Linked DNA regions of Homo sapiens: region 2 is linked to region 1. A link means that fine-mapping ties the variant in region 1 to the expression of a gene that starts in the linked region. Tissue or cell type: whole blood. Region 1 holds a variant in brackets; the other region holds the start of a gene. All regions are shown on one strand. Distances are from middle to middle.

The links. PIP is the estimated chance that this variant, and not a neighbour inherited with it, causes the effect.
Region 2: PABPC1L starts here. The variant in region 1 is fine-mapped to the expression of PABPC1L in whole blood (TOPMed, PIP above 0.99).

What each region holds. Positions count from the first base shown.
Region 1 is chr20:44,882,789-44,887,935 of GRCh38, reverse strand. It overlaps YWHAB (tyrosine 3-monooxygenase/tryptophan 5-monooxygenase activation protein beta), which reads right to left and starts at 2,231. Exons shown (of 6, transcript NM_139323.4): 1 at 2,050-2,231. RefSeq lists silencers at 1,938-2,487, 2,548-2,607 and an enhancer at 1,885-2,501. The variant T/C (reference allele first, on the strand shown) is at 2,534.
Region 2 is chr20:44,907,894-44,913,040 of GRCh38, reverse strand. It overlaps PABPC1L (poly(A) binding protein cytoplasmic 1 like), which reads right to left and starts at 2,981. Exons shown (of 15, transcript NM_001372179.1): 1 at 2,705-2,981; 2 at 188-381. The coding sequence starts at 2,897. It overlaps YWHAB (tyrosine 3-monooxygenase/tryptophan 5-monooxygenase activation protein beta), which reads right to left. Exons shown (of 6, transcript NM_139323.4): 6 at 4,509-5,147. RefSeq lists a silencer at 2,798-3,127.

The DNA of each region.
Region 1 (5,147 bases):
AACTGGAGAGAAAAAGCCATTAATAGTGAACTCTGATTAAAAAACAAACCAAAAGCTTATATTTAACAATTTACAGTTTATAAAAAAGGCTTAATGATAACCCTGGAAATAAGAAAACCAAGAACCAGAGATTAACATGCTGAAGATTCAGAAAGCTAGAAAATATTGCAGGCAAGATTTCAACCAAATTTACCTGACTCCAAGTCCAGTGCTCTTCCTGCTTCTCTATCCACAGCCGAATGGGCAAAATGCACTTTTTGTAGCGGCCCAAATCTCTGGAGACTCTGCCTAGAGAACCAGCATCATGGGAATTTGCTCAGCCTGGTTTTATAGAGGCTGCCTCCCTGATCTATAGCGCTCCAATTCTAAAATGGCTTCAATATAACAAGCACTGCAAGATGTGAAATGTACAAAAGATTACAGGGTAGGCGTCATACTCCAGGGGCTGGCAATCCATAAATATTTGCTACTGATGAATGAGGATATTCAGTTTGAAAAAAACTAGGTGTATAGTCTAGGCCAAATCACCTCATTTCTCATAAAGACTTCATCTGCAAGATAGGTGAATGGTTTCTTATCTCATTGGAAGGACAGGCCAGGAAAATAATTCTGCAGTTGCTACAGGATTATTAGCCTTCCATTTTGAAAGCCACACTTAAATTTCTAACTTAGGTCCAATAAGATTGACAGGTTTTACACTCACACACCGTGTGTTGCCAAGGACAGGGATCCAAGAAAAATGAGGGCTCAAACAAATGAGATATCCCTAAGTAAGAAATAGGGTACACTGGAAGCAGTCAAGAAGAAATTCACCAAGAACAAATACTTATACACATTTCCAAATGAAAATGCAAAAGCTGCAGTGTCCAGGTCTACAAACTGCATCTGTGTCTGGCTTCACATGAACTGACAGAATGAGAAATGCAGACAATTTTCATATTCTTATAAGTGCTTCACCTTTCTCTTTTGGTTCCCGAGGCTGATTTTATGTTCATAGCATCATCTTGCCAAATTCCATCTCCCACACAGGGCAAGCAAAATCAGGACCTGATGCTATCTAGCCTTACCAAAGAGAAATGCAATGAAGGCAACGACAAGAAACATGTATTTTACAGAAAGGTTGGCAAATTGCTTACCAAGGCTGCCACCTCTGAAAACCCCATTATATGGGAGTTCTCCATTTGCGGCAAAGATGCACTCACCTTCCCACCTCTTCTTCCCTCCGCTCCCCACCCCCCGACCAGGAAGCCACCGGGCAAATTTCAGACCGAAAAACGTGCTAACACACAATATGGGGGAATTTGGGGTAAAGACACAAAAGAATCTGGCATTAAATGACGGTAAATACTGTGAGAAAATACTCCGATTCTCACCCCCTGATATTTTTTCCTGGGGATCCGGCCTGACTCAGTAACCGGCTCCAACAAACAGATTTTCTTGATTCAAACCCAATTCCCTTCCTAGGGAATCTTGGGTCCTGCCAGGCTCCATAACCAGTGAAGGATGATGAAATGGTTTTACTGCAAAATGGGAGGGGGTTCCCCCACTGCTGTCTCCCAAGGTTAAACCCCTTACTCATCCAGGAGGAGCCAAACACGGGGACTGGGGCTAGAAAACTCATCCGCGTTTGATTAAATTTTAATTTCTGGAAACCAGAAAGCACGGAGCAGAGGTGACAGGGCTGAAGGGGACGTTCTTGCCGACCAAGACGCAGGGAGGGGTCGCGTGGGGCCCGAAGCAGATAGTGAGGGAGGGTCCGGGATCCCCGGCTCCGCTGTCCCTTACGGCACAGTACGGAGTTGCACCCCGCCCGGCCGGCAGGACCTCAGGCGGCCCGAGCCTCTCCAAGAGGTAAAGGGCCCGGCCCCGGAAACAGGGAGGGGCCGCTGCGAGGTCTGGCCTCGCCGCCGGCGGCCGCGCGGAGCGAAAGAGGCAGCGCGCCGCTACCCCACGGGGCCCACCCACTGGGCCGCCGTCGTCGCAGCAGCCAGAGAGGGGCTTCGAGTTTGGGCCCCCGGGGGCCCCGGTCGGACCCCGCGCCGCACTCACCGTGGGAGGGCTGCAGGGAACAAAGACCCTTCCGAGCGAAGCTCCGAGCGAGATGACCTCTTCCTTCCTAAGCCCACTACTCAGGCGGCGGCAGCGGTGCCTGCAGTGGCTGCAGCGGCGGCGGCGGCGGCGACTACCCCGGCTCCGGAATCGGCGGCGGCGGTGGCGGTAGCTCCACTTCCGCTCCGATCGCCACTTCCGCTCCGGTCCTGGCCGCGCCCCGCCCCAAACCGTGTTCTCATTGGGCAAGCGAGGCACGGGGTTGCCACGGCCCCACGGGAGGGGCGCAGACGGAAGGGAGGAGGAAGAAGAGCGAAAGGCAGGGTTGCAGGGGCCGGGGCAGGGCGGATGGCCGGGGGAGGGACCCAGGAGGAGGTGGGCGGAGAAGAAGGAAATGGGGCGGGGGAGCGGGAAAAGGAGGTGGGAGGAGAGAGGGCGGAGCTGGGGGTGGTCAAGATACGGGCTGTGTGGGAATAAGGAGGAC[T/C]AGGAGTGTGGTCTGGATGGGGATTGCCCTTTCTGCTGGGACTGGAAACGCGCCAGGGCCAGTCCCGGAGATTCGAGGTTTAGCAGTTCCCCCTCCACCCCGAAAGTAATCCTCACTGGGTCGGAGGCCGATGTCAGTCCTCTTACTGTGTGCTTTGGTAATGCTGGAGCCAGGGAAGAACAGAAATTGCTCATCCCTCAATGTTCATTTAATCCTTTCAATCCTTCAGGGTACTTACCTTTTCCTTCTTTGGTAGACTGAAGAGGCCACGTGAAGTGCCAGGAATCCAATGCACAAACGTCTTTTTAAAAAACCTGTGTAGGGTCGAGCGCAGTGGTTCGCGCCTGTAATCTCAGCACTTTGGGAAGCTGAGGTGAGAGGATTGCTTGAGGCCGGGAGTTGTAGGCTGCAGTGAGCTATGGTCATGCCACTGCACTCCAACCTGGGAGACAGAGTGAGACCCTGTCTCCAAAAAAAACCCACAAAAATCTGTGTACATGATTTCTTCTTTAAGATGCCCCCTCGTTGAGGAAGTTCAGGGAAGGAAACAGGCCTCCATGGCTCCCCTCCCCTCCATGACTGCTCTCACAATTACCAACATTCTACTCCTCTGAAGGTAGTTGATTTTGTTTTGTTTTGTTTTGTTTTGTTTTCTGTTTTTGAGACAGAGTCTCTTTCTGTCGCCCAGGCAGTGTCACAATCTTGGCTCACTGCAATCTCTGCCTCCCAGGTTCAAGCAATTCTCCTGCCTCAGCCTCCTGAGTAGCTGGGATAACAGGTGCATGCCACCACTCTCGGCTAGTTTTTGTATTTTTAGTAGACACGGGGCTTCGCCATATTGGCCGGGCTGGTCTCAAACTCCTGACCTCAGGTGATCCACCCGCCTCAGCCTCCCAAAGTGCTGGGATTACAGACATGAACCACCTCGACCGGCTTCAAGGTAGTTGATTTTTAAACTCAGTCCTTCAAAATGCCTCTCGCCTTCCCTCTCTCCTGTTCATTTATTCTTTCAACAAATGTTGAACAGGCTTTTTGCTTAGTGCTGGAGACACAGCAATGAACAAGGCAGGTGGGGCCCTGCTGTCTTGGAGTTTGCAGTCGGGTAGGAGAAAAAGCCAAGTAAATAGGCCTTTGCCGTCTTGCCTTTACCCTTACTTAGCTAAATGACAGACTTCTAATTCACCATTTGGTCTCAGCCTCGCCCGTCAACTGCCAAGTGATCTTTTAAAAATACCATTCTAATCGTGTCCTGTTCTTGCTTAAATTATTTAGTGTGCACTCAGACCTAGATGACAATATATAAGTTCCTTGAGTGTGACAATCAGGGTTCTCCAAAAGCTGCCCTTATCCTTTAGCTGCTATTTCTCCCCCATCGTAAATACCCCAATTCAATTGGATGATTCCTTACCCTCCCAATATGCCATCTCCAGTATTTCTAAGCAGTTTGACTTAGTTGCCAACACTTTTTTAAACTGAAAAGTTTCTGTGTGAACAGAAATCTGCCTCTCTGCCTTGTCTGGTAACACTGTGTCCACATTTCTGTGTGGCAACAATTGGCTGAAGCCAAGGAGTGGCTGCCTGTTCTAGACTGGGCATGGACTTTCCCAAATGCCAGGGACCCTTCTCGACCTGAGTCTGCTTTTGTCACTTATGTTATCTGTCATGTAGGCATGTGTGCCAGTGACCCCTGTACTGTGCCACCTTTTAAGTTGAACAAGATTGAGAACGTGTTGTGTAACGTAAACAGCATGGTTTTGGGTCAAAACCATTGGATTTGAATCCTGGAGAGGTTAGTGCAAAAACTTCCCCATGAGGATCGTCTTTGGCAGACCCTAGACCAGTAATCTAGAGACTACTCAGGCTAAGTAACTTTTAATGTCACAAGACTGTGCCTTATGCCGTCATCCAGAAAATAGCCTAATGGACCAGAGGGCTAATAATGATTATACCACAAATGACATCAACAGTGCATTGAGGGAACAGAAGTGCCCTTTGTCAGGCATTCCTAGGTGCCTGTTAAAGGGTTCAATGGATTAGCTTATTTCACCATCTCTGCATTCTAGGCCAAGCGTCAGCAAACCACAGCTATGAACTGACAGCGATACAGATAAATGTTAAAATACAATGTGGTAGGTGCAACCATAGAAATAAATATATGTGCAGGGTATTATGGGAGCTTGGGAGAAGAGCACCTAACCCATCTTGGGAATATGATGGGAGAGCAGGAAAGATTTCCTTAAAGAAGTGATACTAGAGCCTTATATACTGCAGTGAATCTTTTTTCAAATTATAGACTTAATTTTTAAAAATGTTTTTGTAGAGACAGAGTCTCATTATGTTGCCCAGGCTGGGCTCAAACTCCTGGCCTCAAGTGATTCTCCTGCCATGGCCTCCCAAAGTGCTGGGATTACAGGTGTGAGCCACTGTGCCTGGCCAATAGACTTAATTTTTTAGAACAGTTTTAGGTTTACAGAAAAATTGACCAGATATTACAGAGTTCCCACATTCCCTCTCCCTCCTCCACACAATTTCCCCTATTATTAACATCTTGTATTAGAGTGGTACATTTGTTGCAATTGATGAGCCAGTATTAATACATCATTATTAACTAAAG
Region 2 (5,147 bases), 25 kb before region 1:
ACAGGTAATGTCTGGTCATTCACGGAAGATGAAACTGAAAGAACGGCTGTCATTCAGGTGCTTGCTGTACCTGAAACTTGACTGAAAGGACCTTGTAAACTGTAAAGTGAGGTGTTGCTTGTCACCCCTCTACCAGGCAGGTAGTTGACACCGATCTACCCAAAGACGTACACCCTTCATCCTCTACCTTGCAAGAGAGGATGTTCCCAAAGGTGGAGAAGGTATCATATAAAGCCTTGTTGTCAATGGAGTCCTCCAGGTTCTTGATGAAGATGTTGCCCACACCTGACTTGCGAAGTCCTGGGTCTCGCTGGGACCACATGATGCGAATAGGCTGGCCTTTGAGCATCTCAAAGTTCATTGTGTCCAGTGCCCGCTCCGCTGGACAGAAGGAAGAGGAGAGAAATTAGCAAGTTTAGGGAATTTTCTTACCTTGATCACCCACCCCTCGAGGTGCTTAACTGGGAGCCAATAAAGAGAAAGTCATTGTCTGGGTCCCAGACAATAAGCCAAGATAAGAGCCCAAATAACTGAGATAAGAGCCCAAAGGCTCAGGAAGGATAAGCTGAGAATTAGTGTGTATGGTGCTCCCCCAACCTTCCAGTTATGATCTCATTCAACCAACTCCCTGCAGCCACATGAGCATGGATTCCTGCCCCTCATTTTACAGATGGGAAAACTGAGAATAAGAAACATGAAAGGTCTGTGGCAGCGTCAGGTCTATTCTGGATTCTAAAGTACACTGAGTGGATAACAATGTCCATATGACAAGGGGTGGCAGCACTTTGAGGAAATTAAAACTCAGAGGTGCTGCAGGGCAGAGCTGAGGTTAGATCTCAAGCAGTCCGGCTCTGGGGAAAGTGGACATTACCTCTCTGAGCCTGTTCCTCACCTGTAAAGGGGGAATGATGGTAATATTACCTACTTTTCCACACCTAACAAAGGGAGATACTACCAACTACCAGGTTGTTGGAGGGACTGAAAAATAAAGAAGGTATGTAAAAGTGCCTTGTTTGTAACTTTGTGCCTGACACAAAATAATGTCTCAAAACAGCAGCCGATGCCCAGCCTCCGGCCACTGCTGCAGCCTGTGTCTCTCCTGGGTGATACACGTGACCTGTTTCAGGGAGTCTGCTAGTGCAGAGACATGGAAGGGGGCTGTGGGGAACACAGTGGAGCAAGTTTCAGGAAGCCCGGATTCTCCACCTAGTCTTATCATAAATACCTGGGGCAAAACCCTTCTCTCTGCAGCACGGTTTCCAGGCCGAGTCCCACTTCATTCACAGGGCTTGGAGGAAGATGGGAAGAGGCAGGAGGTGGAGCAAAGCAGAACAAACAGAAAAGTGCCCAGGAATCCAGCCCAGTAAGGGGCGGGGAACAGGCCCGGCGGAACAACCCCTTCCCTAGCAAACCACCCACTCAGGCAACCACCAGGTTCACCCAGGCGACCTGGCGCAAGGGATCCCTCTAGTGGACGCCGGCCATTTTTTGGGTGAGTTTCTGGAGTCTTACATCAGAATGTTAAAGCCACTATTTTCGTTGTTGTTTCTTTTTTGTTTGTTGTTTTGTTTTGTGTTGAGATGGAGTCTCGCTCTGTTGCCCGGGCTGGAGTGCAATGGCGCAGTCTCGGCTCACTGCAACCTCTGCCTCCCGGATTCAAGCGATTCTCGTGCCTCAGCCTCCCCAGCAGTTGGGATTACAGGCGTCCGCCATCATGCCCAGCTATTTTTTGTATTTTTAGTAGAGAAAGGGTTTCGCTATGTTGGCCAGGCTGGTCTCGAACTCCTGACCTCAAGTGATCTGCCCACCTCGGCCTCCTAAGATGCTGGGATTACAGGCGTGAGCCACTGCGCCTGGCCTTATTTATTTATTTATTTATTTATTTATTTATTTATTTATTTATTTTAGGTTACCACTTAAGAGCGTTTACGAGGTAACAAGCAGTTACCATTCTTTATGCATAGACAGCAGTTCTCCATTCTTTATGTTATTGGAGAATACGCCTTAGCCCCATTTTGCAGATGAAAAGGTGCAGAGCGTGAAGGCTTGCCCAAGCTCACTCATCCTCTCCACTCTCAACAGAAGTGCAGGCAAACTCATCGGACAAGCTCTAATCAATGCTATCAGCTCTGAGAAAGCGGCCTTGCGGCCTGGAGGCAGCGGTTTTTCAGAGCCCGTGCAGGTAGAGGCGCCCAGTGTGGATCTCACGTCGCGCTGGGAAAGGCCTGAGCCCAAGGCTGGGTTCTCCTGCCTCCCCTGCTCACCAGCTGTGTTGCCTTGGGCATCTTCCTCACCAGGTGCTTTGAATCTCTCATCCTCACAAGCACTCTATAAGGCAGCTAGGACCCCCATTTTCCAGACACGCATCTGAAGCTCAGAATGGTCGAGTAACTTGCCCAGAGTCACACGGCTGCTGGGCTTCTATCCCTGGTCCGCCTGACCCCCACCCCCACCCCCACAAAGCCTGTATCTGTTTTCACTCGACCCTAATCTCTCTCCTCTGTAGAGGAATAGCAGTAAACCACACTAATTACCAATTCCCGTCTCAGGGGCCAGGCCTCTGCCAACGCCCTGTTATCTTTGAGCCTCAGTTTCCCCGGCTGCAAAGTGTAAGATGAAAGCGCAAGCGGCCCAGTTCCGGCTTCTGTCTGTCCGCCTGCTTGTCCGTCGGTCCTTCCCCTCCCGCCCCATCCCCGGGGCTCACCGTCCGCGGGCTGCTGGAAGTTGATGTAGGCGTAGCCCAGCGAGCGCCGGGTGGCTACATCGCGGCACACGCGGATGGACAGGATGGGGCCGGCGGGAGAGAACTTCTCATAGAGCATGGCCTCGGTCACGTCGGGGTGCAGATCGCCCACGTAAAGCGAGGCAAGCGGGTAGCCAGAACCGCTGGCGTTCATGGTGGGCAGGGGGCCGGGGCTGCGGGGCAAGCAGGAGCCGGGTCACCCAGCAGCCCCGCGCTCACCCGGGCGGAAGCCCTCCTTCCTGGGCGCGGGCCCGCCCCTTCCCTTTACCGCCCCCGCGTCCCTGCGCACCAATCGTGGGCGCGCTCGGACGCCCCTCCCCCGGGATCCCTCCTGGGCCCACCCCCCACCTGCGAGCACTTGGGGATCTAAAAGCTACAGGTGGGGACACCTCTGACCCCGCCCTGGGAGGCGGAAAAAGCCTTCAACCTGGCCTTGAGCAGGGCTGCTGGGACTTGAGTGGAGCTCTCAAAACCCCCAGCTCTTTTGAAAGAGCCGAGGACTGGGACGGAAAGGACGCAGGGGACTGAGTTCTAACCCCGGAACAGATGATCATCTTTCTGAACCCGTTTCCCTTCTCTGTAAAATGGGAATGATTCCCTCCTGACAAGAATGAAAGGAGACCCAAACCGCGCTTTTTGCGTTTCACACACAAACGGAATTCCGAACAGGCCACTGTTTCAAAGCTTGTGTAGAGAATTTTACCCTGCTCCATTGAAGATGTCTTCCTCCAGAGAGCCTGATCCAGTCCCACCGTTTCGCACCAAGGATGGAAATGGCTTTGAGACATGAGAACTGGAGACCACTAAGGCCTTTCTTGGTACTGGCTCATATTACCAAGACCCCTTTTCCTGGGATATTCCCTGTCCCTCTGCTAAGCCATTACACATCCATTACACCAGGGAGGTTCACTGAGTTACTTGTGGCTCAGCCTAAATGCGGACAATTGGGAACTAATAGCAGAGCAAGACCTAAACAGAGCAAGACTGTGAATCTGAGCTTGCAGCGTCAATCTGTGGTATAGGGACATTAAAAACAACACAAAAACAAAACAACTACTCCACTGAGCACCAATACTTCACTTTTCCTCTGATAGGACTTTCCTGGTCTCACTGATCCAACAGAGCAGGTAGGCCCCCACTGACTTTTGGTTGAGTGTGGCTTCAACAGGTGGAACAGCTCCTAAACTAGGGACAGAAGGTGCCCATCTGGCTGTCCAGCCTCAGAGTAGCAAGGAAGCACTAATTCTAATCTTGGGCTAAAAAAGACCCCTCTATCCTGATATTTTTCTCTCCTTGTGGTAATGTGGATGTTTTCAGAAGGGGCAAATCCTGTGAGGAACCAGCTCTGCAGGCCACCATACAGTGTGAGGACAGGTGAGACGCCAGCTTGGTGATGACCAAGACTTATGCAACCATAGGTTACCTATTTCACTGGCTTGGTTGTATCTCAGAGTTAAAAAATGGGGAAGGGATGGTGGGCTCGAATACAATGCAAAATAACTGTCCATACCAAATCTTAGAAGTCACTAAAGAGGACCTAATACCTGCATGGTTTGTTGTGGAAGGTAGAGAGGTATCAAGTAACGGGTGTAAAGAGGCTGTTTAATTAATGGTAATTTCTTCCCCTGGATAACACCTTGACTTCTGGTCCTAAATAATGAAATAAAACTGTTTGCCTATTTTTAAAGAAAACAGAGTTAAAAATAAGTGTGATCAGAATAGTTAGCTAGGTCTGGTAACAACAGAGATGGTGGTGACACATCAATTCACAGGCAACTAACTGATAAAATTTTTATTTCACTTTTGAATTTTTACACTTTTCCTGATTATTCTGTGTAAGGTGAAACTAGAACTGTTTAAAAGACATACACAAATCTAGTACATCAATAACCGGGGATTTTTCTTTTTTGCTATACTATTTTCACAACCACGGGTGTGCTTGCTAGGCAATATAACCATCACAGAAGCAAACGTTAGGCAGAATACTGGTAAGAAAAAACAAAGCAAGAAAAGAGCTACCAGATATACAGACAGGCTTGGTTCCACATTCACTACTGCATTTTCAAGCGCCAAGTATTAACTGCACATTTTTGTTCAGCTAGAAAGGAGGGATTTTTTTTTTTGTTTTTTTCTTTTTTTTTGGTTTGTTTTAAATCAGTGCATAAATTTTTCTTTTCTCATTTCAGCAGATGGACAAACAGATGGACTCTACAGCTAAGTGGAATATCAAAGGTAGAGGGGTGATTCTGTGAGACTGATAGGCCTGACTATTCTCAATTCTCCCCACTGCAGTGTTCACGCAACTTCCCTGAATATAGGGTCTCCTTAAACACATCTGAGCACTGACCTGGATGAGTGCACTTGGGAGACCTGGTGACAGGCACAAAAAGCATGATCAGGGCTA